Regions from separate parts of the Homo sapiens genome. Here all the other regions are linked to region 1. Evidence: fine-mapped expression QTL. A gene starts in region 1. Each other region holds a variant in brackets. All regions are shown on one strand. Distances are from middle to middle. Region 1 holds the start of EIF2AK4 (eukaryotic translation initiation factor 2 alpha kinase 4). Region 2 overlaps EIF2AK4 (eukaryotic translation initiation factor 2 alpha kinase 4). Region 3 overlaps EIF2AK4 (eukaryotic translation initiation factor 2 alpha kinase 4). Region 4 overlaps EIF2AK4 (eukaryotic translation initiation factor 2 alpha kinase 4).

What was found. PIP is the estimated chance that this variant, and not a neighbour inherited with it, causes the effect. A credible set is the group of variants that fine-mapping cannot tell apart.
Region 2: its variant is the best candidate, but not a certain one, in a credible set for the expression of EIF2AK4 in nasal epithelium (TOPMed, PIP 0.51).
Region 3: its variant is the best candidate, but not a certain one, in a credible set for the expression of EIF2AK4 in thyroid (GTEx, PIP 0.51).
Region 4: its variant is the best candidate, but not a certain one, in a credible set for the expression of EIF2AK4 in subcutaneous fat (GTEx, PIP 0.61).

The regions. Positions count from the first base shown.
Region 1 is chr15:39,932,805-39,935,420 of GRCh38, reverse strand. It overlaps EIF2AK4 (eukaryotic translation initiation factor 2 alpha kinase 4), which reads right to left and starts at 1,306. Exons shown (of 39, transcript NM_001013703.4): 1 at 1,082-1,306. The coding sequence starts at 1,225. RefSeq lists a silencer at 1,024-1,433 and an enhancer at 1,454-1,593.
Region 2 is chr15:40,005,599-40,008,197 of GRCh38, reverse strand. It overlaps EIF2AK4 (eukaryotic translation initiation factor 2 alpha kinase 4), which reads right to left. Exons shown (of 39, transcript NM_001013703.4): 24 at 1,133-1,182; 25 at 3-171. Among named protein-coding and RNA genes, the nearest start is that of SRP14, 32 kb to the left of the region's middle. The variant CAAAA/A (reference allele first, on the strand shown) is at 1,195.
Region 3 is chr15:40,013,457-40,016,072 of GRCh38, reverse strand. All of the region lies in intron 27 of EIF2AK4 (eukaryotic translation initiation factor 2 alpha kinase 4), which reads right to left. Among named protein-coding and RNA genes, the nearest start is that of SRP14, 24 kb to the left of the region's middle. The variant T/G (reference allele first, on the strand shown) is at 1,179.
Region 4 is chr15:40,000,601-40,003,216 of GRCh38, reverse strand. EIF2AK4 (eukaryotic translation initiation factor 2 alpha kinase 4) reads right to left here. Exons shown (of 39, transcript NM_001013703.4): 21 at 1,993-2,229; 22 at 429-504; 23 at 1-24. Among named protein-coding and RNA genes, the nearest start is that of SRP14, 37 kb to the left of the region's middle. RefSeq lists an enhancer at 635-929. The variant C/T (reference allele first, on the strand shown) is at 1,225.

The DNA of each region.
Region 1 (2,616 bases):
GCTGCAGTGAGCCGTGGTCATGCCTCTGCACTCCAGCTTGGGAGACAGAGCAAGACCCTGTCTCAAAAAGAAAAAAAAAAAAAGCAGATGAAGTTAGAACTATGTTTTAAATGATAATATGATAATATTCAGAAATAGTTTGGTAGATCAACTCTTCAAGGATGGGGAAAAAACTGTCAGTATAAATACTTTATAACGTGCCTTAATTTCCAGACAAAAAGGCAAAATATTATTTTAAACAAAATGCCATTTTAAAAGGTCTAGAGCTAGAGCAAGCTGGTCTAACCCGAGGCCCATGGGCCGCTTTGAATGTGGCCCAACACGCATTCGTAAACTTTCTTAAAACATTGAGGTTTTTTTGCGAATTTTTTTTTTCTTTTAGGTCATCAGCTATCCTTAGTGTTAGTGTATTTTGTGTGTGGCCCAGGGAAGCCAAAAGATTGGACACTCCTTCTCTAGACTCAGTCTAGAACCCTCTCTCTACTACAGCTAAGATGAATGTGTGCTTTATTCTGAGCTAAATGTCTTAGAGGAAGGTGCAGAGGTATGGAAAGTTCCTCCATACCGGAAAACACAGTGAGGATGCCTGGGGAGTACAGAGGGAATTATGTGGCGTGCAGATTTGAATGCATGGATGAGACTTGAGAATTCTGATTGAGGACGTAAGGCCTGTGCGAGAGCCCAAAAAGCGTTCTCAGAACAAAGTAGCAAGGGGCGCGTATGAATTGCTGTGGTATCATCCGCAAGGGCTTTCAGAGGGGAAAAAGGACAAGGTTGGAAGGAGGCAGTTATGTTATGGGATGTAGGCAGGAATAAGAAGCAGTGCCAGGTAAGAGGGAGGAATCCAGGGGGATTCCTCTGGGGAAATCATGGGGAAAGGACTGTAGAAGAATTCGGCCTAGGTGGGATTCTGCAGACCAGCTGCAGGTGCAAGGACTAAAGTGAGCATGGGTGGAACCTAAGGGATGAAAAGACTGCAGGATCCTAAAGCGGCGGCCCAATCTGGAAGTGTCCGGGCTTTGGCCCAGGGCCCGGGGAGGCCAGGGCACGCCAGCCCGGGCCTGACAAGCCACGTTCCTACCGGTCCGCAAGCGTCCGGCCGCAGGTCTTGGAAGTCCGCGCCGTAAATGGCCTCCAGGGCCTGTAGCTCGTGGTCCTGTCGTTGCGGGTAGCTCTCCGGAGGCTCGTCCCGGCCGCGCCCGGGGGCCCCACGGCCCCCAGCCATGGCAGCGCTGCGCCCAAGGCAGGGCGGCCTTGCCTGGGCGGCGGTGGGCCCCCGGCAGCCTGCGGGGCGGGGCTCCGCGCTGGGGACGGGCTATGGGCGGTGTTCCACGCTGGAAACGGGCTCGTGGGCGGGGTTCCGCGCCGGGGACGGGCCGTAGGCGGAGCTCCGCGCCGGGAGCTAGCTCCGGAGGCTCCAGAAGCCCAGGCGAAGGAAGAAGGCAGGGGGACAGCTTTGCCCACATCCTGCTGGGGGAAGGGGAGCAAAGGAACTCCACGAACTTAAGAAATGAATCACAGATAGGAATGAAAACGCCACATTGTATAGTTTTCACGAAACAAGTATCTTTAACAGAAGTGCTTGCTGGAACTTCTCCACCCTGGCATGGCTAGTGCGGGAAACTCTTTTTTCTTTTTTTTGGCAGAGTTTCGGCTCTTGTTCCCCAGGCTGGAGTGCAGTGGCGCGATCTCGGCTCACTGCAACTTCCGCCTGCCGGGTTCACGCGATTCTCCTGCGTCAGCCTCCAGAGTAGCTGGGACTACAGGCGCGCACCACCACGCCCGGCTAATTTTTCTATTTTTAGTAGAGATGGTGTTTCACCATGTTGGCCAAGATGTTCTCGATCTCCTGACCTTGTGATCCGCCCGCCTCGGCCTTCCAAAGTGCTGGGATTACAGGCATGAGCCACCGCGCCCGGCCGGGAAACTCTTAAAGGGCAGACGTCGATGGGTTCTGAGGTCACTTCTAATTTCACCTTGTACCTTCCCAGAACAAGACTACCGGGAGTAAAAATTGTGACCCCCCCCACCCTCCTTCCTCCCACTTTAGTACCCCCAAACTTATTCTCTGAGCCACAGATTCAACACCCTCATTATGTTCTCTGTCTCTACATTCCCCAGCTTTGGGGATCTCCACTACCACCTTGCAAATTCAATTGAAAACTGTCTTTCCACTCAGGCATCTTTATGAGCTACCTTCCCATGAAGAGAATCATGTTCCCTTCCCAGTTCACTCAGTGTGAATTTAGGGAGTCTTTGTGTTATATCCTGCCTCAAGTCGTCGTTTTTCAAGTTTATAAAATAATAACCTGTCTACCCAGACATTGTTATTGCACTTCATCTTCAGTAACTTACTAATGCTGCATGTCCATTTCGAATAATCCTATTGTACTAACCCAAGTTAGGTTTAAGTGACGTTTCTTCTGTCTACCTTGCTTACTCCTCCACTGTTCACTAAATAATGATTGTGTAAATTCCTTGCTGCCATCTATCCACTCATTTCTGGCCAGATAACACAAATGCACTAGCTTGACCCAAGGCCAATTTAAATCATCATCTTCCCTCTGCTGGAGACCCGTTCCTTCTCCAGTGATCTCTGACTAGGTAAATGGCACC
Region 2 (2,599 bases), 73 kb before region 1:
ACCTGAAGTGCTGGAAACTCTTGGATGATTTCATAGATAGTGTAGATAATTTCAGCAGTGGGCAGAAAGCTGTTGGTGGTAGAAGTGACAATATCAAATGCACACTCCAGAAGTTCTTTGGGATGAAATCGATCTAACTTGCGCGGCCTGAACACACGTTCTATGCAGTATCTGGAGAGAGAAACCCAGATTTCTAAGGTCATTGCTTACTAGAAAGAAATATGTATAAGAAATTGTTGAACAAGATATAAGAAACAAATATGAAAAAAAATTAATCGGTGGTATGATCAAGAGGACTGAAAGACAAATTTGACCTGGAACAGCCTTGCCTTGTGATCTAGGTTCCAATTCCCAGTTTTGCCACTATTAAGCTATGGGGCTTAAGGTTTTTTAAATGTCTGAAATAGAGATGAAATTACACCAAAAAATTTTACCTTAGTGATTGCTTTCTACACAGGGATACCCACACCATAGGACTACGATTATTAATTATTCACTTGTAGCTAGAATAAAAGCATGTAAAGAGCTTTGCTTTCAGTTGAAGAAAGGAGCTTTAAAGTAGGGTGCCTCATTGACAACAATACTGCTCCAAATTATGAAGATCTCAGTGTTGGACCCCTGTGGTATTTGAATGTACAGAAAGCCTTTTTCCAGGGCTAAGTGCCTGGAGGTCCTCAGCGCTCAGCGTTCCTGCTGGGTTTACTCCACTTCTCTACAAGCAGCTTTTGTTCGGTTACCTGTGTAGGCAGTTTTCACATAGAGACCACTGGCCATTTGTCCCACCAATTAAGTTTTAAAAGGGGCCATCTGTGATCATGAACAGCCAGATGTTTTTATCAAGCAACCGTTTGTGAAAATAATTAGTAATGTTGCTTGGGGACATTTAGAAGGTACAGAATAGACTGTGGGAACATGACGGTACCTACCTGCTACATTCCTTCTAACAGTCCTAGTTACCTTACAGGAAGGGGTACTGTGGCTGGGCTTCTGGTTCATATTCTAAGCTCAATATTCTGAACCCAGAATTCTTAACTGTGTAAGGATCACAGGAAATAAAATATTCTTTCCTGGTTGACAAATTATTCAACTATTTTCCTATGTCTACCAAATGGAATCTCCTATTGTTTCTTACCGTTTTAAATTCAATATATTATTTCTTGCCACATATCTTGCAAAAGGGATCTGAAAAATAAA[CAAAA/A]TATGAAAGGTCAATGTCAAAATGTGCCTTTTGTTAATAGCGGCTTTATTGAAACATAACTCCTGTCCCATAAAGTTCACCCCTTTAAAGTATGTACTTCAGTGGCTTTTAGTGTATTCACTAAGTTATGCACTGCTCACCACTCACACTCCCTGAAATGTTCTTCAGTGTTTTGGTCAGTGGTGGACTCCGCTGCTAGACATACCATCAACCTTATTCACTGTGGCATTTCTTAGGTTTTTTTTAAAATTCACTTTTAGTTAAATATTCTCTGTGGAGCTTTTATTATGTCCAACTAAAATTAGTGCAAGTTATTTATTTATGAATTTAAAAAAAATGTCACTTTTATAGTAATGCAGTCAAAATGGGTATTATCTCTTATGGTGAATTTCCTGATTTTCCTATCAATCTCTTAGAATAAATTCTTAATAAACACCTTCAAATAGTAACCACAACTAGTAAAACCATTGTTAGATTGCCCCAACAGATCCAACATGGTATCATTACCACTGATGGGCCAAATTCTCAACATACATTCACTTTTTAATTTTTTGCATTTCAATATCAGCTTATAGAATGGGAGCTGATATTTAAAAATCTGCACTTTAGTCTCCTAATATTTAGAGAATAAGAAGCCAGCTTTAAGTATAGCTATGTAAATATTTGTACTTCTATTCTTTTTTTTTCAACAAAACGCAAATGTCTCATCTGATTTGCTGTTTATTTACCTCTACCTCAGAATAATCCCACATCACTTTACTCACTATAAAAGAAAAACAGAAGTGAGGAATGTGGAAGGAATTTCTTCTTAGACTATAAACACAAAACCTGTTTCACAATAAGCCATATGACATACATTTAAAAAAAGATTCCACTCCCCCCTCCAAAAAGTATGGTCAAAATGAGTGTATTCTTTGACACCTTACTCTTTGGTGATACAAACAACCTGATGTGCACGGTCATTCAGACACGTGAATGTGACAAGTTCAAGTTTTGCTTTTTGGAGCTTTGTGAATTTTTTTTTTTTTTCTGAGTATCTTCCATCCTCGGTTGGATCCATGGATACAGAAACCACCCAAGGATGTAGAGGGCCAAATATATATATCTACACATATATCAAGTGTATGCAGGCCGGGTGCGGTGGCTCACGCCTGTAATCCCAGCACTCTGGGAGGCCCAGGTGGGCGGATCACGAGGTCAGGAGATCAAGACCATCCTTGCTAATACAGTGAAACACTGTCTCTACTAAAAATACAAAAAATTAGCCGGGCATGGTAGCGGGCACCTACAGTCCCAGCTACTCGGGAGGGTGAGGCAGGAGAATGGCGTGAACCCGGGAGGCGGAGCTTGCAGTGAGCTGAAATCACGCCACTGCCCTCCAGCCTGAGAGACAGAGTGAGA
Region 3 (2,616 bases), 81 kb before region 1:
TTCCCTTCCTTGGCTTGAATCATTCCTATTTGCAACCTTGAGATGTCTTCTCCTGTGGGCAGCCTCCTGATCCTCCCTTCCCTCTCCTCCCACCTGGATGCCAGATCCTGGCTGTCACCAGCTGTACTCATAGACTGCCCCAGAAGAGGTCAGTGGCTAGAGATGATTGATCTCACAGTCCCTGGTACTCAGCTGGAGTAAGAGGAAACAACCATAGTCATAAAGCCAGAAAGAAAACTCCCAGGAGCTAAAGTAGAAATTATTAAGAAACAAAATTATAGCCATTTTAAGACTGTAGGCAAGTACAACCTAGTTCATCCATAAATTGGCACATGAAACCTAAGGGCTAAATGAAGGCTCAGATTGACATAGCTTAATCTTAGAGTTAATCATAAATCACTTAAATTTTTAAAAAACCCAAAAAATGTTAAAACCTCCTATAATCTTGATATGGTTTGGCTGTGTCCCTACTCAAATCTCATCTTGAATTGTAGCTCCTACAATTCCCATGTGTCATGGGAGGGATCCAGTGGGAGGTAACTGAATCATGTGGGCGGGTCCTTCCCATGATAGTCTCATGATAGTGAATAAGTCTCACAAGATCTGATGGTTTTATAAAGAGGAGTTTCCCTGCACAAGTTCTCTCTCTTTGCCTGCTGCCAACCATGTAAGACATGACTTGTTCCTCTTTGCTTTCCACCATGATTGTGAGGCCTCCTCAGCCACAGAGAACTGTGAGTTCATTAAACCTCTTTCCTTTATAAATTACGCAGTTTCGTGTATGTCTTTATTAGCAGCACGAGAACAAACTAATACAGTAAATTGGTACCGGTAGAGTTGGGCTGTAAAGATACCCAAAAATGTGGAAGTGACTTTGGAACTGGGTAACAGGCAGAGGTTGGAACAGTTTGGAGGGCTCAGAAGAAGACAGGAAAATGGGGGAAAGTTTGGAACTTCCTAGAGACTTGTTGAATGGCTTTGACCAAAATGCTGATAATGATGTGGTCAATGAAATCCAGGCTGAGGTGGTCTCAGATGGAGATGAGGAACTTGTTGGGAACTGAAGTAAAGGTGATTCTTGCTATGTTTTAGCAAAGAGACTGGCAGAATTTTGCCCCTGCCCTAGAGATTTGTGAAACTTTGAACTTGAGGGAGATGATTTTGGGTACCTGGCAGAA[T/G]AAATTTCTAAGCAACAAAGCATCAAGAGGTGACTTGGGTGCTGTTAAGACCATTCAGTTTTAAAAGGAAAACAGAGCATAAAAATTCAGAAAATTTGCAGCCTGACAATGAGACAGGAAAGAAAACCCCATTCTCTGAGGAAAAATTCAAGCCAGCGGCAGAAATTTGCATAAGTAACAAGGAGCCAAGTGTTAATCACCAAAACAATGGGGAAAATGTCTCCAGGGCATGTCAGAGGTCTTCATGGCAGGCCCTCCCATCACAGGCCTGGAGGCCTAGGAGGAAAAAATGGTTTCGTGGGCTGGCCCCAGGGCCCCCCTCCTCTATGTAGCTTAGGGACTTGGTGCCCTGTGTCTAAGCTGCTCCACCCATGGCTAAAGGGGGCCAAGGTATGTACAGCTCAGGCTGTTGCTTCAGAGGGTTCAAGCCCCAAGCTTTGGCAGCTTCCATGTGCTGTTGAGCCTGCAGATGCACGGAAAACAAGAATTGAGGTTTGGGAACCTCCGCCTAGATTACAGAGGATGTATGGAAACGCCTGGATGCCCAGGCAGAAGTTTGCTGCAGGGGTGGGGCTCTTATGGAGAACCTCTGCTAGGGCAGTGCAGAAGGGAAATGTGGGTTTGCAGCCCCCATACAGAGTCCCTACTAAATGCTAGTCCATGGAAGCATCCAGGAGGGAGGCTGTACCCTGCAAAGCCACAGGTGGGGAGCTGCCCAAGGCCATGGGAGCCTACCCCTGGCATCAGCATCACCTGGGTGTGAGACATGGAGTCAAAGGAGATCATTTTGGAGCTTTCAGATTTGACTGCCCTGCTGGATTCTAGACTTGCATGGGGCCTTTAGCCCCTTTGTTTTGGCCAATTTCTCCCATTTGGAATGGGTGTATTTATCCAATGCCTGTACTCTCATTGTATCCAGGAAGTAACTCACTTGTTTTTGATTTTACAGGCTCATAGGCGGAAGGGACTTGCCTTGTTTCAGATGAGACTTTGGACTGTGGACTTTTGAGTTAATGCTGAAATGAGTTAAGACTGTGGGGGACTGTCAGGAAGGCATGATTGGTTTTGAGATGTGAGGACATGAAATTTGGGAGGGGCCATGGGTAGAATGATATGGTTTAGCTGTGTCCCCATGCAAATTTCATCTTGAACTGTAGCTCCCACAATTCCCCTGTGTCATGGGAGGGACCCAGTGGGAGGTAATTGAATCGTGGGGGCGGGTCCTTCCCATGCTGGTCTTGTGATAATGAATAAGTCTCACGAGATCTGATGGTTTTATAAAGAGGAGTTCCTCTGCACAAGTTCTCTCTCTTTGCCTTCTGCCATCCATATAAGATGTGACTTGCTCCTCCTTGCCTTCTGCCATCCATATAAGACGTGACTTGCTCCTCCGTGCCTTCTGCCATGATTGTGAGGCCTCCCCAGCCATGTGGAACTG
Region 4 (2,616 bases), 68 kb before region 1:
GTGGAGTACACAACTGAACAGCTCCTACACCAAATGAGAAAAAATAGCTCATCATCAGGTTCACATTCTCCTTAGAAGGCAACCTAAAATTAACACAAACCTGACAGTTAAGTAATTGCTACTGGGACCATTGAAGTCATATCAATTTTTCTTGAGTTCTCTAAATTTATAAATAGAGAGCTCATCTAGAGTTAAGTTTGACAGTTTGGTCATATTTCTGACTCCACAAACCAATTGCATTTTAGTATTAATAGTAAGGCTGTAATATTCAAATCAGTTTCAAAAATAAGCTTAAATTCCATATGATGTCAATTATTTATAACTGAATTTGAAAGTAAAATATGATATGCCCGAACACTAACAGTACTTTCTAATGATGAAAAAAGTCTTATGAGAAGAAATATCATTTTTAAAAAGGGCGTACATACCATGTCTTTTAAAGATGCGGATGATGGTTTCACACACATGCTGCTGCATCTTGGCTGTACGGATTGAGAAGTTGCCCTAAAACAGGACCGATTAAAACATCATCATTGAAGCCTTATCAAAGGGATCCTTTAAAATATTAATCTGTGGCTTGCAGTAGGCACTACACTGCTTATTTCCAGGTTCAAAAAACAAGTCTTGACAAGTCCATCCCTCTTTGAACACATCAGGGAAGAGGACACATATCTTTCATGGCCTGCTTTGGAAAGCAAGAGCTAACCTTTCAACCAATGGGAAGGATGCCTGGGTTCAAAGTCCAAATTCTTGGCCACATTGATATTTGCCTTTCAGAGGGAGATAATCAAATAAACACATTCTCTCTGACTCTCAGGGATACTGTGGCGCGATGACCACCTAACAGCATCAGGCCCCTCCCACATACCAAGGTGATTCATGGCAGGCCTGTTGAAAGCTACATGGCATTTACATATTTTGCCAATAGCTTTCTTTTTCATTTGTTTTTGTATTATAAAAGTAGTACCATTTCACTATAGAAAATTTAGAAACAACACATATGAAAAAAGACATCTATAAAAAAGTCACCTATAATCCTGCAAATATCTTTCTATAATAATATTGCCAGCCAGTAAAAATTGTGTTTGGTCTCTAAAATCTATACTGATCTTTCATAAATTTTACTATGACTTCCTCCACTACTCTATCTTTTTAAATTATATCATATATATTAAGCAAACAGAAACATAATAGAGAATATAACAAATACCTGTTACCTACTCA[C/T]CCAACTTTAACACATTTTAACATTTCACTAATATGCTTCAGATTTTTTTTCTTTTTAAAAGAAATTAAATGTTAAAGTCTTCCCAAACTGGCAACCTGGCTACACTTCAGAAACTGCTTGGGAGCTTTTAATGAGATTCTGAAATGCCTCACACCTGGAGATTCTGAGCCACTAGATGGGCTACGGGACCTGGGCATCTGCATTGTCAGAGAGTTTCTGAGATGAAGTAGATGTGCAACCAGCACTGGGAACTACTTTATACTTCATCTAGATATGAGCTGGTTGATGCTTATGGCTCTGGGCGTTTGGGCTAGGGATCAGTCTCTAAATGCACTGTTTCTTTTTTTTTTTTTTTTTTGAGTTGGGGTCTTGCTCTGTCTCCCAGGCTGGAGTGCAGTGGCACGATCTCGGCTCTCTGCAACCTCCGCCTGCCTCCCAGGCTCAAGCGATTCTCCTGCCTCAGCCTCCCGGGTAGCTGGGATTACAGGTGCATGCCACCACGCACGGCTAATTTTTGTAGGCACTGCTTCTTAATCTCTTGGGTGGGTAGGGAGGAGGAAAGGTCAAGGACTCCTTCAAGTAGGTGACTGAAAGTATGGGTCCTCTTCCCTGAATGCATATACACACATTTTGCATGTACTTTTAGGGGCTTCCAATACCTCACATAAGAACTTATGTTAGAGGCATTAAAAGAATCTGTGAGAAACTGGCTTGATCCTTTTGTGGACAAGGTGAAGCTCCCTTTGTGCAGCGTGGCTTAAGCCCACCTTCAGTATGTCGCTGTCATAGGTGTAATCGATGGCAGGGGAGATGCGCTGCGAGAAGATCTGGGCCATCATGGTGCGGTAGGCCTTCCCATCCACGTTGGTCAGCGTGTGGTGCAGCACTTCATGCAGCTCTGACTCCTCCATCTGGGGTGGGGGCAGCAGCTCACTCTTGAGCAGTTCTGTGGCTGTGGGCCGTTTTGCTGGATCGTGGTTCAACAGCCAGGAGATGACTGATTTCTACAATAAAACCCAGGCACACTGCTAATGGGATGCAATGGATAATGCTCAGCTATTCTCCGGACAAGTCAGTAGTCAGTTCAGGTCAAAGAAAAGGTGCCACTATTCTTGCACTTAACTGACATTCTGAAATTTCTGAATAGGTCATTATTTTTTCTGCTTTATTATGACCACAGAGTTGTGCAACAATGTAGTATGAACATTTCTTAAAAGGAGGCCCCTTGTTTTTATACCTTATTGTCACAACCAAAAAAAATCAAATCAACAACTACATAGAAGCAGAAATTAGGCCTTATAAACACAGAAAATATCGTATAAAAAGATGTAAAAAGATAAAACAAATAGCTTTACATGCCTAATTTTAGTAGAAATTGTAATGCATAATAA